2 linked regions of the Homo sapiens genome follow. The protein of the gene in region 1 interacts with the protein of each later gene in a biochemical or structural test. Each region holds a gene or a part of one and is shown in the gene's direction. Other genes may lie near its edges.

Region 1 (3,500 bases):
GCCGTCAATGATTTAGGAGATCGGACAAATGTGTATTTACTTTAAGACATAATTTTGTAAGTTAATTAAAATGATACATACTTTCTGTCTAATTATTTCTTATCATTTGTGTCTACATAACAGCAACGCATACTGGGTCCTGTGGGGGAAATAAAGGTTAATTGAAGGCTCTGACATTTGCTCCTTAATTAATAGGTTTTATATTAGAGAATTATGATTTCATCTTGGAAATTGGATTTACTGACAGCCATTTAGAAACACAGCTGTTTTATGAATTGAAATATACCTTAACACAGAAACCTTTTGTGAAAGTATTAATTGGTAATTTACTAAATCTTTTTAGGGAGGTAACTGGTTTGTTTCTAGTGTAACCCTTTATATTTTACCTTAAACATTTTCTTAATTATGTAAATTCGTAATAATCTTCTTTTTTCATGTTTGAATATTTTCTTCAGAATCTGTGAGAAGGGAGATGTGACTTGGAAACTTCTCTAAGTTTTGCTAAAGAATGTACGACGATGTTTCTGCCTTTGGGCTTGCCATTCCTGTTCTTTTTTTGTGTGTATGAAACAGAGACTTGCTCTGTCACCCAGGCTGGAGTGCAGTGGTGCTCTCTTGGCTCACTGCAACCTCCGCCTCCTGGGTTCAAGCCATCCTCCAGCCTCACTCAGCCTCCCAAGCAGCTGGGATTACAAGTGTCTGCCACAACACCCGGCTAACTTTTAAAAATATTTTTAGTGTAGACAGGGTTTCGCCAGGCTGATCTTGAAGGCTGGGCTGGTCTTGAACTCCTGCCACCCGCCTCTGTCTCCCAGAGTGCTGGGATTACTTGCCATTCCTGTTCTGTAAAGTGTTCTGCTCTCCCTATTTCTGCAAGGAGAATTCTCATGCGTCGTATAGCATTGCATTTGATTCATATGTCTCTTATTGCCCTGATTGTGTATTTTAAAGATCTCTTTCCTTTTTTGCCTTGAGATTGAAGGATTTAAAGGAAGGAATCATTTTTTAAATTCATTTTTATATAGCAAGTGCTTACCCCACAATATGCATTCAAAAATATTTGCTAAATTAATGATTGAGACCCATTATTGTCTCCTTTTTTGCCTAATTATATTTTCTCTCTTTTTAAAATCTTTCTTTATGCAGTGCCCTAACCATTTCTAATATTCAGGCTGGATCTACTGGAAATTGGGGCTGTCATGTCCAGACCAAACGTGGGAATAATACGAGGACTGTGGATATTGTGGTATTAGAGAGTTCTGCACAGTACTGTCCTCCAGAGAGGGTGGTAAACAACAAAGGTGACTTCAGGTCAGTGTTGTGGAAAATACGGGGAAAAGTTTAATTTGTCCCAGATCCTTCTGTTGTCTAAGACACATTATTGGTTTCCTGTCCTGAGTAACAAAATTTGAGAACTGCACATGTCTGAGGACTACCCTTTAGAATAATGATTTCAGAATCACATATGGAGATGAACAAAAGGGGTGCTTGAACTTTATCTCAGACCTGTTGATTGAAGAATCTCTGAAAGTAGAGTCATTTTTAACAAATGGTTTTGTTGTGTAAGAGCCATTGCCTTAGGGAAACATTGGAGATATTCTGGTAAAAGAGTACAAAATTCAAACAGGTTAAGTAAGGTATTTTCTGTTTTTTTTCCCCCCAGTGGCTCTTTTATAGATGAACCTTGGAAGGTTTTATATTGCTAAGGTACTTTTCACTACTGGCAGTTCAGTAGGCATCAGAATTAGAAGAAACACCTATCTAATTTTCTCCCCTTGTTCAGTTCTTCTGGAAATCAAGCAAGAAGGACTTTGGGAAATGAAAGCTGTTGGGTAGCCTGAAACTTGGGGAGCCATGGAATCCCAGGTGGGGTTTGTTAATCTAAGCAAAGGGAGTTATTTATTTATTTTTTTATTTTAGTAGAAAGTTTAGGATTTGCAAGAGATGACAGCTTTTACCTTAAACTCTCTTTACTTTCAAAGGTGCTTTAAGACATCTTTAAATATCTTATTTACTTGATCTTATTTATGTTCAGGGATTTAAAAAATGAGTTTATAGTTGATATGAACAAAGGGAAATATGTTATTCTTTGAAGCAGCATAAAGATTGTTTATTACCCAGTTTGCATTGTCTCTAATGGGTTCAGTTGTTACCTCCTGTCTCTAACCTCAGTGTTTCAAGGGTGGGAAAACCCTTTGGTGTTAATCTTTTAAATCCAAAGTAAAGAAGCAATAATAACATCTTTATCTCAGCTAGTTTGCCATTGCTCTTTTTAAAAAAGTTATTCTTGACATCAATATATGGAAATCAACATTTATTATTGCCAATGGATAAGTCTTTTATGTAGATTAGGTATTGATCTATAATATTTATAGTACATGCTTTTAAGTGAAATATATGATATTTGGTAATTTTGTTACATTCAACATCTTTTATCAAATAATCCTAATATGATATTTACTATTTATGGTAGATTTTCTATATTCTCATAGTTTTGAGTGCTTTACATTTTTAAAAATAGAGCAATTAAATGTTTATAGATCAATGAATTATTTGTCTTTGACACTCCTTAAGATATTATGCAATTAAATTCCCACTGCATTAATAAGATTTAGTTTAGTGTTGCTTGATCTATTTATGTGGTTTTTGTAATGAATTCTGTTTTGGTGTGACTGATACTGTCATTTAGTGGTTCCTGTGATGAGCATCCATGGTAACTTGTATTAAACATGTTGAATTTCATTCTCAGTTTTGGAGACATAGAGTTCAAATAACAAAGGTTTCTCCCAGCCCAGTTTTGATGACCCGTGTCAGGGTTGTATTGACATGACACATCTTCATCTTTGATTTTTTTCTCTGCTGTTGTTATTCTTGATGTACCCGTGTCATTTAGATTTTCTTGTACTATTTTGTCTTCATCTCTAGATGGCCCAGAACATTGGCAGGCATTACTGCATATCTGCAGTGTACGCGGAACACCCATGGCAGTGGGATATATCCCGGAAACCCACAGGATGAGAGAAAAGCTTGGCGCAGATGTGATAGAGGTGGCTTTTGGGCAGATGATGATTATTCTCGCTGTCAGTATGCAAATGATGTCACTAGAGTTCTTTATATGTTTAATCAGGTAACTAGAAAGTCTTCATGTTTACTTGGGTTGTGGAGAAAACATGGTATTCAAACCAAATACATAAGTTTTTTTTTTTTTTTTAATACTAGGCAAAACATAAGGATTTTGTGTTTTTACTTTAGTTGACTTAACTGTCTTCAGGATCAGGTCCATCTTAATCACTAGTCAAGGCCCTCTATAGAATCCTTCCTTTGCAGTCACCATCTCCCTTTGTGCCTTTGTTTGAATATCTTTTTTTTAATCTGTATCCACCAGACAGAATCCTAACCATCCTTCGAGTTCACATTGAAAGCCACCTCTTGGATTCATTTTATAATCACTTTGTTGAAAGCGATTGCTTAGAATACTTGAACTACTCATGTGCTTTTTG
Region 2 (3,500 bases), on another chromosome or scaffold:
GACCTTGGATGAGTTTCCGAACCTCTCTCAGTCTCAGGTTTTTCACCTGTGGAATGGGTAATAATAGTACTTACCACTTGTGGTTATTGTGAGGATTAAACAGTGCACATAGAGCACTCACTATGTACCTGGTACCTAGTTTGTGCTCAGTAAAGGAAGCTGCTTTGCAGCTTTATACATATATTTCAGGTGTGCATGTAGGGAGCTACACGGATGTGTTCAGACTAGTGCCTCAGTAAGGCTGCCGTGAGAGAGGAAGGAGGCACAGAGGTATTCAGATGGTAAAGGGTTAGTGTGCAGGAGGTCTGTGCAGAGCACTGTGATGCTAGGCAGGGATGCCTTTTGAGGATAGATGATCCTACACAGCACCCACAGGCTCCCTGACCCTTCTCTTGGAAGAGCGTTGATGGAATCCAGATGCCAGTTAGAGACATATCTTTGTCATGTGGGGATAAATGTCAGGAAAAACACTTAATGCTCATTTTAGGTTGTGATTTTGGTTTCTTTTGGTGAATCATATAACATTTTACTCTGTGTGTGTGTGTGTGTGTGTGTATGTGTGTGTGTGTGTTTGGGGAAGTGTGAAGAAGGAAGGAGAGAAGGACTGAGAAATGTACATTTTTCCAAGCTTAGTTATTGCTGTTGCATTTGAAGGGGTAGACTGAATCACACTTGAAGTCGTTTCCTTCCCCCTTTAGAATATAGGGATTGTTTTTTGGTTTTGTTTTTTGCTGTTTAAAGTGGAAAATGTTTTATTTGAAGAGTTATTTTTAACAAATGGAATTTTTATGTATTTGTATTCAGAGTAATTGTTATTGAAATAAATCTTCTAATGACATACGGCAAGGAATTTACCATGACTAGATTTTGGAGTTTTTGTGGAACATTCTGAGCTTACATTTCAAATGATTTTGTTTGGAAATATCACATGCTTGTGCCATTTAATTTATAAATCCATCTGTTAATCACTAGAAATTTAATCCGTACACTTGGAGAGAATTCATTGCAGTGCTGTTTGAAAAGAAGTTCGTGAACAAGCTGTGAGGGTTTTTTATGAGCTTGTTGGAGCCTTTTGATTTTAAGGAAAGGAAGGAGTTTGAACAGTGAGCTGTCTTCGTTCCCAGAAAGTTTTAGTTCTGACATTTAATTCAAAGATCTAAAGAGATTCAAGGAGGTCAGAGATCAGAATTTATTAGGACTAGAGTGATGGTAGTGCATCGGAACAAAAACAAAATATCTGTTTTCACAGTCAAATTATTAGATATTTACAAGTTTAATAACATTCTGTGCAAATGAGGATGTGGGAAAACACTCTGTCTAATGAACAATAAGTATAAACTCTCTGAAAAGCCATTTGGCAATATCTTTGAAATGTACATATCCTTTTACCCAACAGTTCCATTGTTAGGGATTTGCCCTAGAACTATAATAGCAAAGATAATTTAAAATACAAGTAGGAGAGTATTATCACAGCATTGTTTAATCACAGCAAATGAAAACAGTGTTTATTAGCCTCATGTTGGATACTGTTCAGTCACTTTAAGAAGTAAGGCAGACACGAATTGGTAGCAGAAGATCTTCATGATTTTTAGAGTTAAATGAGAGAGGCAAGGACATAAGAGTCAGACTAGCATAATCACATTTGTATGCAAAAAGGAACAAATGCATATTTAGGAATATGATGTGTTAAAATGTTTTCAAAAGGATGCATAAAGTCAAATAGCTACCATAGGCGGGGGAAGAAGGACAATGGGTTGGAGATGGCAGGGATGCATCATTTTATGTCCTTTGGTGTGGTTTGAAATATTTTACTGTGTGTGTATTTTAGTTTAAAACAGAAATTAGGAGAAACAAATACCTTTTACCCTATTGCCACTCTTGACACAGCAAGAGTCAATTACTGTTTTAAGAGTGCAAGCTTTACTTTCATGCTCAACTTAATGCCTAGCATTCATGCATGTTTTTTTTTTTAACCCAAAGGATAACCACGATGGATCATCCAGTGAAGGAATCTTTGTATCCAAGATAGTTGACAGTGGGCCTGCAGCCAAGGAAGGAGGCCTGCAAATTCATGACAGGATTATTGAGGTATGTGAATACTGGCCAGTGTCTTTGAATAGGCTGAATGCCATCCCATCTTCGTCTAGCTCAAAGCAAGATGTTTGACTGGGGAGGGAGGCCTAAAGTGGTAGATGGTTGAGCGGGAGTCTCACTTTTCCCATTGTGTGGGACCAGATTGAGTGTTGATTGCCTTGGTGTTAAATTTTTGTTAAATGTAGAAAAGCCAGATTATGAGTGGAATGTTCACAATTTGGCTTTTTTCATGTGGACCTCAATCTGTTTCGTATGCATCAGTTACAGTTTCGCGCGAAAACCGTTGAAGAGTTGGATGTTAGAACCAGATGAACGAACCCTGTTGTACAAATTGTGCACCCTGTTCATATTGATTACCAGGGTACAATTGTGTCAGCTTTGGAGTCATTCTAATGTCCTCAGAGCTCACACAGCACACACTTATTTCTACAAATGCATTGTTCTCTCTGTTAGTTTGTCGTCTTTGCCTGTTGTTAGTTGTACAACCTGATTGCCCAGGGATTTGCAGGCAGAGGTTGATATTAGGGTTCACATATCATCACTTACTCCATTTTCAGTTCGTCATTCATCATTTCAAACTTTTATACAGCAGGTTTGTAGACTCATGTAGGGGAAGTGGATCTCTCAGCCCCACCAGACAACACTTTGTAACAGGGTTGCAGTGTTCTAGGATGCTCTGAGTCACTAAAAGGGAGAGAATGATTTGTTGCCTTCTCATATGGGCTCTTGTTGCAAAGTTTGATATAAATGAGTAATTTTTTACTGGTGTTTTGACCATTTTCATAGCTCTTTGGATGGATACACATATGGGCTAAATTGATTGGCTTTCCTATTAGGCAAAAAGTAAATTTGAGAATCCACGATGATATGCCAGACCCCACAAGAAATTCACCCATGGGCCACAGCCGTAATATAGTGCAAATAGAAGAAACCAGAAAAACAGCACCGATACCAGTGGGTGTTTGTTTTCCACATGCATTTTTATCATGTCTGTATTTCCTGAGTATTTTCATGGCCTATTTCAAAATTTAGGACTGAGTGGGAGCTAGGACCACGAGCTAAGCCATAAGTGAAGTTCACATCACTCACTGGAATGTGGCCACAGGCTTCTCCTGGGGAAAGGAGCCTCAGCAAGACAGAGAACAAAGTCTTGCATTTCCAGTCTCATCTGGACACATTCTGCAACGTGCAGTATGCTTCAGGATAATTTGTAATCCTCAGGAAAATACACAGTTAAATCTCACAGGGAAAGCAAACTGAACTAGTTAGGGTGTAAGGCTCCCTCCTCGGAGGGAGTGTGATGTGCTAACTTACATGCTAAAATGATACTTGATTTTGTTTTAAGGACATTATTAATATTGTTGCATCCCCTTTGAATGTTTGAAGGGTTCTTAAACTTGGAGCTT

The links. Proteins that work in one complex are often made in the same cells at the same time.
Region 2: the proteins of ADGRA3 (region 1) and PDZRN3 interact in a test that uses a peptide from one of them, tested with the Homo sapiens proteins (one large-scale study listed by IntAct).

What each region holds. Positions count from the first base shown.
Region 1 is NC_000004.12:22,436,067-22,439,566, reverse strand, and holds part of ADGRA3 (adhesion G protein-coupled receptor A3 precursor), read left to right. Parts: intron 1-1,146; coding exon 1,147-1,311; intron 1,312-2,925; coding exon 2,926-3,127; intron 3,128-3,500. UniProt on the Homo sapiens protein: Orphan receptor that may have a role in planar cell polarity pathway.
Region 2 is NC_000003.12:73,600,942-73,604,441, reverse strand, and holds part of PDZRN3 (E3 ubiquitin-protein ligase PDZRN3), read left to right. Parts: intron 1-1,980; coding exon 1,981-2,088; intron 2,089-3,500. UniProt on the Homo sapiens protein: E3 ubiquitin-protein ligase. Plays an important role in regulating the surface level of MUSK on myotubes. Mediates the ubiquitination of MUSK, promoting its endocytosis and lysosomal degradation. Might contribute to terminal myogenic differentiation.